Homo sapiens: one gene and its partners. The protein of the gene in region 3 purifies or fractionates together with the protein of the main gene of each other region. This does not show direct contact. Each region holds a gene or a part of one and is shown on either strand. Other genes may lie near its edges.

Evidence for each region.
Region 1: the proteins of SFRP2 (region 3) and MKLN1 purify together in Homo sapiens (affinity purification with mass spectrometry; 4 studies listed by BioGRID and IntAct, with this or other methods). This does not show direct contact.
Region 2: the proteins of SFRP2 (region 3) and ARMC8 purify together in Homo sapiens (affinity purification with mass spectrometry; 3 studies listed by BioGRID and IntAct, with this or other methods). This does not show direct contact.

What each region holds. Positions count from the first base shown.
Region 1 is NC_000007.14:131,330,789-131,334,539, reverse strand, and holds part of MKLN1 (muskelin), read right to left. Parts: intron 1-3,751. UniProt on the Homo sapiens protein: Component of the CTLH E3 ubiquitin-protein ligase complex that selectively accepts ubiquitin from UBE2H and mediates ubiquitination and subsequent proteasomal degradation of the transcription factor HBP1.
Region 2 is NC_000003.12:138,185,158-138,188,908, forward strand, and holds the start of ARMC8 (armadillo repeat-containing protein 8), read left to right. Parts: upstream 1-2,143; 5' UTR 2,144-2,397; coding exon 2,398-2,442; intron 2,443-3,243; exon of another isoform or gene 3,244-3,370; coding exon of another isoform or gene 3,371-3,373; intron 3,374-3,751. UniProt on the Homo sapiens protein: Component of the CTLH E3 ubiquitin-protein ligase complex that selectively accepts ubiquitin from UBE2H and mediates ubiquitination and subsequent proteasomal degradation of the transcription factor HBP1.
Region 3 is NC_000004.12:153,787,577-153,791,327, forward strand, and holds the start of SFRP2 (secreted frizzled-related protein 2 precursor), read right to left. Parts: upstream 1,508-3,751; 5' UTR 1,260-1,507; coding exon 758-1,259; intron 1-757. UniProt on the Homo sapiens protein: Soluble frizzled-related proteins (sFRPS) function as modulators of Wnt signaling through direct interaction with Wnts. They have a role in regulating cell growth and differentiation in specific cell types.

The DNA of each region.
Region 1 (3,751 bases), on a different chromosome or scaffold from region 3:
CAAGAAACTGACGCTCAGAAAAGAATCATAACTTGCCAAAAGTCACAAATATCTAATTCTAGGAATCAGCTCTGTAGACTCAAATTCTCATCCTGAGTACATTTCTTCCATCTTGAGTGTTTTTATTTTTCTGAAGTTCTAAGAGTCCCAGACTGAAAAACACAGAACTTTCAGTGGCCAGTAAGGTTCCCAAACAGGGCCAGTGTCCTTAAATCTCAGTTTAAGATAGGGAGAAAAGGGAGAAAAGGAAGGGCATAATAGTATCCGGTCTCCTGGGAGTTGCATGCCTCCAAACTAGTGGTTCACAAATTCTGGGTTGCAGGAGCCTACAGAATTATTGTAACAAGACCTCAAATCCATTTTCATAACCACCATTATCTGTACACCAAATACAATAAATATATTCTATTTTTCAACTATATGTGATTAATAAAATCAAAATTCACTTAAAAGCTAAAGTAAAGGGATAGAGAAGGAAGAAACAAAAAAGTTATTGGGAGCATTATCACTTTTGAATTATATAAGCATCCTCTAGACATCTCTACGGACCTGTCTCTGATTTAAATATGTTTTCTTCCAAATTACCAAGGATAATGCCAAAATGAACTCAGAGTAGTCTACACAGATAGAAGGAAAATAAACTGATACCTTTAATCCAGCAACTCAACATCTAGGAATTTATCACCAATGAGTTCAAAATTTTTTTCCAGGCTGGGTGTGGTGGCTGTAATCCCAACACTTTGGAAGGCCGAGGTGGGCGGATCACCTGAGGTCAGGAGTTCGGGACCAGCCTGACCAACACGGAGAAACCCCGTCTCTACTAAAAATACAAAAAATTAGCTGGGTATGGTGGCACATGCCTGTAATCCCAGCTACTTGGGAGGCTGAGGTAGGAGAATCGCTTGGACCCGGGAGGCAGAGGTTGCGGTGAGCCGAGACTGCGCCATTGCACTCCAGCCTGGGCAATAAGAGCGAAACTCCGTTTCAAAAAAAAAAAAATTTCTGTAAAGCAAAACTACCTCATGACTCATAATAGTCAAATAACAAGAAACACAAATGAAAATAAAATAAAACCACAAAGCCTAAATGTCTAATAACACGGGACCAATTAAACAAAATGACATAAAGTCATTACATGGAATATAATGTATCCATAATAAATTTTGGCTGGGCACAGTGGCTCACACCTACAATCGCAGCACTTTGGGGCACTGAGGTGAGAGGATCACTTGAGCCCAGGAGCTGGAGACCAGCCTGGGCAACATAGTGGGACCCCATCTCTACAAAAAAATTTAAAAAATTAGCCAGGCATGGTTGGCTGGGCATGGTGGCTCATGCCTGTAATCCCAGCACTTAGGGAGGCCAAAGCAAGTGGATCATTTGAGGTCAGGAATTCAAGACCAGCCTGGCCAACATGGTGAAACAGTGTCTCTACCAAAAATACAAAAATTAACCAGACGTGGTGGTGCACGCCTGTAATACCAGCTACTTAGGAGGCTGAGGCACAAGAATTGCTTGAAGCCAGGAGGCAGAGTTTGCAGTGAGCCAAGATGGTGCCACTAAATTCCAGTCTGGGTGACACAGCGAGACTCCATCTAAAAAAAAAAAATTAGCCAGGCGTGATGGCATGTGCCTGTAGTCCCAGCTACTTGAGAAACTGGGGCTGGAGGATCGCTTGAGCCCAGGAGGTCGAGGCTGCAGTGAACTATGATCATGCCACTGTACTCCAGCATGGGTGACAGAGCAAGACCCTGTCCCTTTAAAAAAAAAGAAAAAAAATACAATATAGAAGAATATTTAATAACATAAGGAAGTATTTACTATATGTTAAGGAGGAAAAAGCAAATACAGAACAGCAAACAGGACAACAGTAAATTGAAAAATACATACATCTACAGTAAAAGATCTGGAATGATAATAAACAGTATTTAAAGGGTGACTAGTAATCTTTAGGTAGTGATATCAAGGGTAATTTAAATTTTGTTTCTGTGGGTCCATATTTTACAAATATTCGATAATAAACATAGAGCATTTTTTACATCAAAATATATATTAAAAGATATATAAAATATATTTTAATATATATGATATAAAAAGTGTCTATTTTTTTCTTAGACATGGGGTATTGACGAGATGCTGTCTTTTTCTTTTGTAGAGACAAAGAAGAAAAGAATATATATATATTTACATATTTTTAACATAATAATATATAACTATGCACATATATTTTATGTAATAAAAATATATAAATATTTATATATTTTTTTTCTTTTGTAGAGATGGGGTATGTTTCCCAGGCTGGTCTCAAACTCCTGGTCTCAAGTGATGGTCCTGCCTCAGCCTCCCAAAGTGCTAGGATTACAGGCATGAGCCACCGTGCCTAGCCTATATTCATTTTTAAATGTGAAATTTTAAAATTAGTTTTGAAAAGAGTTGAAATAAATTCACCTTCTATTCTAGTTGTCAAATCATAACACTTGTACTCTGAACCATGAATCAATCACATGTTGACACAAGGTACTATTTTAAGTACTATTTGATTTTAAGTAATAAGACTAACAGGAAAAAGGTAAACACACTTAAAAATCTATCAGATTTTATCATCTAAATTATCTAAGTCATTCAATAATATGTAAACAAGATAAGAATCATTCTATACCAATGAAATTACCTAATATGTAAAAAATACTTTCAAAGTTTCTCCCAGTTCTCATATGAGTATACTAAAATCTTAAACATCAAGATAAAATCTATTTTTCCCTCTCTTGCTGTTCTAACCTTAGAGCGCTTATCTGTAATCTCAATTAGACATATACAATAGCCATGTATAATAATGAACAGCTTTCGTAACAGAAGTCAAAAGGCCCAATATGAGAACCTTATCACCTACATTTTCTTCCTCCTCATCATTATTATTATTGCAGATGGGGTCTCATTGTGTTGCCCATGCTGGTCTCAAACTCCTGGGCACAAGTGATCCTCCTGCCTTGGCCTCCCAAAGTGCAGGGATTACAGGTGTGAGCCACCCTGCCCTGCCCCTCTTACATTTTCAACTCTTAGACCTGGGCAAGTTAACTTACCTCCCTAAATCTCACTTTTCCTAGCTCTAAAATAGAATAATAATATTTATCTCATAGGGTTTTTGTGAAGACTATTATATCAAAGAACACATGCTAAATGCTCAGTACAGTGCCTGAAGAATAGAAAGTACTCAATAAGTGGTGACTGTTATTAAAGTCACAATGCAATAGTTTTTAAGTCAGAAAACCTGGCAAGCCTCTGGAAAACTATATGACCCTGGGCAAGCTACTTACCCTGTATGGACCTCAGTTTCATCCTCCACAAAACATATATAAAATACCTATCTTACAGGTATGTACCAAGAATTAAACAAAACTGTATACAAAAAGCATCTTGCATATATTAGGTGCTCACTAAATTGTAACTAGCATCATTATTAGATACAAAAATAAACATTTGAGTACAGGGATTAGCAGTTTACAAAATATTTTTATGTATAAGAGTATATGTAATTTTATGAATTATTTAAATAAGTGTATTTAATTATTAAATTAGGTGTAAATTTCAGAAAAAAAGTAAAATACAGGCAATCTCTAAGCACACAAAAATAAAAGGCCTTTTTTTAGTCTCAAAGTAAAAATGTGTTCCCTATAACTGAATCTGCTTTAACATTTTTAAAGTCCAAATAAATTAAAAAGAGTTGAAAGGGGAAATATTTGTTTTTTCTGCC
Region 2 (3,751 bases), on a different chromosome or scaffold from region 3:
CCTGGGTAACAGACAGAGGTGTGAGATGTCTTGAGTCACATTTCTAGCTCCTCCCCGCTCGGATTTCAGCCACAGCAGCAGTGACAGTTCTGTGCAAGCTCAGATTTATGCTGCCTATATCCCACCCTAAGATGAAACCTGCAGACTCTGCTTTTTTGTATCAGGTTAAAGAAGCCCGTTCTGTTCTGGGCACAAATATAATCCAGGAGGGCAGGGAGTTAATAGCCCTAGGGAAATCCTCAACCAATACATATGGTATTGGTGGATGAATGCTGTAGCTTCAAGATGGACAATCCAGAGAGGTATTCTGTATGTTTTCAGAGGTGATTGAGGAATAAACAGTGGCATCAATAATGGACAATTATCTTGAATATTTATTCTTTCTTTTTTCACTCTCCCTGACCTATCAATTTTGTTCCCTGAAAGCACTTACTAAATAAACAAAATGCACCCAAATCTTCGTCCCAGGCTCAAACTAAGCCAAAAATTCGTACAACAAACATTTACTAAGTGACTGTGCTAGGCACTGAGATAGACAACCTAGAAGATAAAACTCCCAGTGCCTGTCTTGAAGTGTATAGTGAGACAAACACGGAAACAATTAACAACAACAAAACCACCCTACAATTAAAGTGAAGTATGAAGGCATGGGGGAAAGGGTATCTAACCCATGCCTGGGGGAGACAATTCCTGGAGGATGTATTGCTTGAGCTAATGGATGGAGTGTGGATCAAATACAGTTATAATGACTCTATATACTATGTATTAGGGTTATGTTCTGCCCCATTGCAGTATGCAGTACATGATGTGATTTTAGGTGGTCCATGGATGGACATTTAAACTTTTTGTAGTTAATGTGTACTAGAATAAAAATAAGGAGCACAACAAACTTGATTTCACAGAGTATTATGGTTTAGGATAAAGCCAAAAATTTTTAATGAGTTGAAATTGGCTTTAAATAAAAATATTGAATGAATAATAATACCTAGGTGCAGATTGGCAAAGATTGTGTAGGTGGTGTACAGATTACCCAAGTTTCAGAAATAGTATTATAGCAGAAGGACTACCTAAAATAAAATTCCTGCCTTCCAGGAATTCAACAGTTTGTTAAGGAACACAGACCCATAAGCAGGGGTGGTAAATGCTACACTAAATTTGGAAACCAAGTACAGGAGGAAGACAGGAAAACAGTGAGGAGCAGAGTGCGGGAGAGGCTACCAGCTACAAGACCAGTTGGAAGGCTATTGCTGTAGTCCAGGGGAGAGGTTACAAGAGCCTGAATTAGGGTGTGGCTATAGAAATGGAAGGAATACAAGTAATGTTAACAGGCCAATTGCAACCATACTGTGAAAACCTTACTGGTTGCAAGCAGTACGAAGGTGAAACTTATCCAACCAAGTCAAGGGCAGTGTTGCACACACACACACACACACACACAAAGTAGTAGGACAGCTGAATTAATCAAGTATAATTGAAAGCATACTTTTATTTAGCTTCGGTTATGAGAGTGTTTTAGTGCGAAATATTTAGATATTTGCCCCCATTTTCCCCACTTAACTCAGAAGCTGGAGAAATGTTAACACATATTGTATAACGCTTTCTATGTTCTAGGTTTTTTCTGAGAGCTTCACGTTTGTTGACTCCTCTATCCTCATTAACCTTTATTTTATAGATGAGGAAACTCAAACAGAAGGTTAGATAACTTGCCCAGGGTAAAGCAGCTGATAAATCAAGTAGCTAGGAAGAAACCCAAGCATTCTGGCTATTCTTAACACTACACCAGAATAAACGGGGCCGGCACACAACGCTAAGGCAAGTCACGTATCTGTATCGGATCGTGAAACAATCACTCTTACGGTTGGCAAAGGTTCTGGGATCGCAATTTCCCCACCTATAAAATGGAGATAACGACGCCGGGAGTTTGGTGCAGAGAGAGAGAATGAATATGAAAGTGAACTTCAAACTATGTATGTGGCTCCACGTACTACTTTTTCCAAATATGAATACTGGAATCCATAAACTGCAATTTATCAGTCCGTAAAACTCGTAGCGTCAGGGCGAGACTCCGCCTCTGGGGCCCCGCCCACCGCGAGCGGCAGGTGGGGCCGGCAGATCTTCTTTGCGCATGCGGAAACCGCTGCCCGCTTCCACCTCTAACCCAGGCTCAGAGTAGCTGCTGTTTCTGAGAGAACGATTCGTAGGACAGCCCCTGACGCCATTCCCTTTTGCCCTTCTTTCTGCGGGCCTTTCCGGTACTTGAGCGGTGTCCAGAGCGTGGCCAGTTCTCGTCTATCTGGCTGCCTTTAGGGAGCGGTGCCTAGCGTTGGCCAATAGTTGGCTGTCGAAAGTGCCGGCCCCCGCGCCGGCGCCTGCAGCAGCCGGGTGGGAAGGCTCAAGATGGCGTGCTTGTTGGAGACCCCAATCCGCATGAGCGTCCTTTCGGTGAGTGACCCGCCGCGGCCGCCCGCCCGCCCTCCAGGAAGCCTCATCCCGGTCTCCACCATTCCCCCAAGCGTGGTGTGCCTCCTGGGCACCACCCCCTGGGGTGGACCCCGGCTCAGTCTCGGGCCAGGGAGTGAGCGAGGGTGGAGAGGCGGGATAGACGGGCAGAGGGGACCGCGGCCGAGCCAAAGACGTTTCCAACTCCGGGAGCTCCCGCCGGTGCGGGTTCCCAGGATGGCGTCTGGCAGGCGGGGTGGCTGGGCTTATAGACAACTGGCTGGGCGGCGCGGCTTGGACTTTGCCAAGCGTTTCACTGAGCCTTCCTTTTAGCGATGCCGCTTCCCGGGGGCCGAACGCTCTGCCTTGTGAAGCGCCGGGCTTGCAGCCGGCCTGAGAACGAGCGCCCACTCAGCTCTCCCGGGCTTTGGCAAGAAGAGGTGCAGGCTCCTTGGCCCCCATTTCCTCAGAGCTGCCAGGCCAAGTCTGTGCGGCTTCTATCGCGTCCCAGCACCTGGGCACCGGCTGAAGCAGTTTGCTTTTTGGCAATGGTGATTCGTATCAGCTGCAACTCTTCCTAGTGTGTGTGGTTTTTTAAGCCCCTTTCCTCCGCTCTGCTCAGAGGTCGCGGCTCTGAGTCAGAGGAACTCTATGTTCCCTGTGCCTGGTATTCCGTTTTTCTTTAAGGGGAGTCAAACATTGAAGGGGGGAAAAGGGGGTGAGATTTATTTCCCCATTGTTGAAAGAAGGGAACGTATTGACATGCCAGGAAGTAAAACCTGTTTTTTTTTTTTTTAAAAAAAGTTTTTTTAAAGAAAAAGACGACTTTCACCTTTCACTATGTTGCTCTTGAACCAGGACCAGGAATGAAAGTTACTGGGAGATAACTTCGAAGGATTTTGCAACAAATTCGAGCTGTCCGACTCTGAGAATGGTCAGTTTACCAATGGTTCATTTGCTATTGTTGGAAACAAGCAGGCAAATACTGATTGACCATCTTTTAGACTTGTGGAAGCCAGTCTGATACTGAGAGGGTAGTTGGATTATAAATGACTTGTCGGGTTCCTAGAGTCTTGTAACTACAACCGGTTTCTTTTCTCTTCTCTGACTTGTCCCACAAACAAACTCACCTATCTGAAAACACCTAGGACATTTGCTTATGATTCAGGGTTAGAGCAGTGTGGCAGACCTCAACCTTGAAAAGGCTTAAGTTGTCAATACAATAATAATTTTGTGAGGCTGTCAACAGATTTTTCCCCTGATCCATTTTAGCAGTCATTTTTTCTTATTTTTAAACTGCAACTAAGGAAAT
Region 3 (3,751 bases):
CTCCGTTTTCTAAAAACTTGGGAATCTCTTTTGCATGATTTTCTCCAGCTAATCAAAACCACTCCTAAGTTAAAAACTGATAGCAATAGAAAAGTGATTTCCAGAGATTCCCTTTATGCCCTCTTCCTCAAGTATCTGAGCAGTTACAACCAATGTTCAATTTTCCACACACTCCGTGCCAGTCCCGGTTTTATTTCCAAAATCTAAATTGACAAAGGACAAAAAGACCCTTAAAAGGTTATCTACTTGTGCATCCTGGTTTTCCTTTCTGTACAGGAAATGTTCCTGTGACTAGAATCCTGCCCAGTGGTAGGAAGGTGCAGAATGAGGCTGAGCGAGGGGCCTCTGGCCAGAATGCTCACCACAAACTCCTCCACCAAACACCACTTCCAACGCTCTGCGCAGCTCCAGTGCTAGCATCTTTAACAATAATCGTGTATCTATTTTTTTTTAAACCGCCGTTCAGTTCTTCGTTTTTTTAGTTTTGTTGTTTTTGTTTGTTTGTTTTATTTTTAAACTGCCCTTAAGTATAGCTGGTACAACTCGGGAGGAGAATGCGCGAGACTTGGGCGGCGTGGGAGGGGTGCCTCAAATTTGATACAGGCTTGTTGTGATGACAGACCAGGTCAGGCAGAACTTCTGCCCTTCCCGCTACTGGCACCCCAAGCAGGGATGCACTGGGATGCGTGGCAGGGGCGGGATCTCCTGGGAGCGTCTCAGCCCAGCAGGGAGTGGGGAAGCAAGAGGGAAGGCTTACCTTCCTCGGTGGCTGGCAGGAGGTGGTCGCTGCTAGCGAGGGGGATGCAAAGGTCGTTGTCCTGGGGGAAACGGTCGCACTCAAGCATGTCGGGCCAGGGGAAGCCGAAGGCGGACATGACCGGGGCGCAGCGGTCCTTCACCTGCACGCAGAGCGAGTGGCATGGCTGGATGGTCTCGTCTAGGTCATCGAGGCAGACGGGGGCGAAGAGCGAGCACAGGAACTTCTTGGTGTCCGGGTGGCACTGCTTCATGACCAGCGGGATCCAAGCGCCGGCCTGCTCCAGCACCTCCTTCATGGTCTCGTGGCCCAGCAGGTTGGGCAGCCGCATGTTCTGGTATTCGATGCCGTGGCACAGCTGCAGGTTGGCAGGGATGGGCTTGCAATTGCTGCGCTTGTAGGAGAAGTCGGGCTGGCCAAAGAGGAAGAGCCCGCGCGCCGAGCCCAGGCAGCAGTGCGAGGCGAGGAAGAGCAGCAGCAGCGAGCCAGGGCCCTGCAGCATCGTGGGCGCGCGACCCCGAGGGGGCAGAGGGAGCGGAGCCGGGGAAGGGCGAGGCGGCCGGAGTTCGAGCTTGTCCCGGGCCCGCTCTCTTCGCTGGGTGCGACTCGGGGCCCCGAAAAGCTGGCAGCCGGCGGCTGGGGCGCGGAGAAGCGGGACACCGGGAGGACAGCGCGGGCGAGGCGCTGCAAGCCCGCGCGCAGCTCCGGGGGGCTCCGACCCGGGGGAGCAGAATGAGCCGTTGCTGGGGCACAGCCAGAGTTTTCTTGGCCTTTTTTATGCAAATCTGGAGGGTGGGGGGAGCAAGGGAGGAGCCAATGAAGGGTAATCCGAGGAGGGCTGGTCACTACTTTCTGGGTCTGGTTTTGCGTTGAGAATGCCCCTCACGCGCTTGCTGGAAGGGAATTCTGGCTGCGCCCCCTCCCCTAGATGCCGCCGCTCGCCCGCCCTAGGATTTCTTTAAACAACAAACAGAGAAGCCTGGCCGCTGCGCCCCCACAGTGAGCGAGCAGGGCGCGGGCTGCGGGAGTGGGGGGCACGCAGGGCACCCCGCGAGCGGCCTCGCGACCAGGTACTGGCGGGAACGCGCCTAGCCCCGCGTGCCGCCGGGGCCCGGGCTTGTTTTGCCCCAGTCCGAAGTTTCTGCTGGGTTGCCAGGCATGAGTGGGAGAGGGTGTGTGTGTGTGTGTGTGTGTGTGTGTGTGTGTGTGTGTGTGTGTTGGGGGGCTGCGTCCCTGGTAGCCGCGTGTGCCCTGTGATGGAGCCCGGGACCTGCCCGCCCGAGGCCGCCTCGGCGAACTTCGTTTTCCCTCGAATCTCCAGCCACCGTTCAGCAGCCTGTCGGTGTGCTCCCCAATGCCGTAAAAAAATCAGAATTATAAATATATTCGTATGAGCAGAACTTTACATGGAAAACGAAATACTAATAAAATGGGCTTGTTATTCTGTTGGAGTGAGTGCCTAGGAAGGGTTTCGTCGTTGTAGAAACGCCCCTACAAGAGTCTCACCAGTCACACAGGACTGCCCACCATTTCCCCGTTTTGGAGAGATTTTTCCTTCTTAAATGAATGGCATGACTCAATACTCGAAGGCATCACGGGCTCTAACACACAGCCGCCCTTGCAGCTGTGCGCTCTGGAAAGCTGGAGTATGGGCCCCCAGGGCACTGTTTGTAAAGACTGGTGGCCGGCACAAAAGACGGGCACAAAAGATGGGCAGGCTGGGAGGGAGCGAGGTAGAGGAAGGAGTCCTGCCTAGAGATCCACGAGGGCTAGAATTAGCTCATTCATCCCCTACGTACCAGGGGGCACCATGCTGGGCGCTGGATGTGCAGAAATGAACAAACAGGCCGGCCTCTGCTCTCGTGGAGCCTGGGATCTAGTGTCTCTGACTGCAAACAGTAAGTTCTGGGTTGGGGGGTGGGCTCCTTTTGCCTAATTGTCCCTAGTCTCCCTATGGGGACAGGAGGCCTTCGCTCTCCTCAGCCGCTGTCTCCGGGTGGCTGTGAAGATCCAAAGAGATAATCCCCGGAGGGCGAAGTTCTTTCATATGTAAGGTGGGCGCATTGTTATTACTTCCCGACCACTTAAGAGTCATTCACAGGCTCAGACCCCGGCTTCCTAATTTCCCTCCTTCCGGAAGATGCGTTGGCCTTGGCGGCTCCCAGGCCCAAGTTATCAGGCACACTTTGCGGTCCAGCTGCTTAGAGGAGCCGGGTAATGAATGAATGGGTGGCAAAAGCCCACTCAGTGTTATCTGCTGACCGTAAACACGCCAGGAAAATCGTCATCTGGAGAGAATGCACATTCTGAACTCCAAGAATCTGCGTCCCTAAGAGCCCAGCTTCCGGGTGCTCTGCTGGGGAAGGGCCCGGGGTAGCTGCAAAAGGCCTCTCTTTCCCCAAATTGGTTCAGGGCCTTTTCGTCTCTAACGAAAGCACCAAGAGGCCTAAAAGCCCCCTTCCCAACATAAACTACTTTGCAATGAAACCACAAAGGAAACAGAAGCACACCAAAAGAAAGAGCTAATAAAGAGCGTGAGCTCTGAGAGATGCTACGACTTGGGCCTGGGAGTGGGATAAGGGCCCTCTCGCTTTCACGCCCCCCCAACCCCCCGCCGGCCCCGGCCAACCCCTAAATCCCCAACGCCCTCCGCTGGGGTCGCCTCCTCCCCGCAGAGCCCCTTGTTGGGAGTTCAAGGAGCCCGAAGCTGGTCTGGCTGGTTTGAGCCCCGCGCTGCCGCACGCCCGGAAGTGGCTGGCGGCCCCCGCGCTCCGCGCGCCGGCTGCATTGTTTTGGGAGCCCTCGCTGCCCGGCTTGCCGCCAGGAGGTGCTGGGAGTCGCGCCTGAGTCTCCATCCCTGCCGTGCGCAGTGTCCACCTCTGGCCAGCTTGTTTGCCCGGCCCGCGGCGTCCCCTGCGGCCCATCGCTGCTCCTCCCGGAACCCACGCCACTTAGTCTGGTCCCGACCCTGCACTCGCTGCTGCTGCCTTTCCC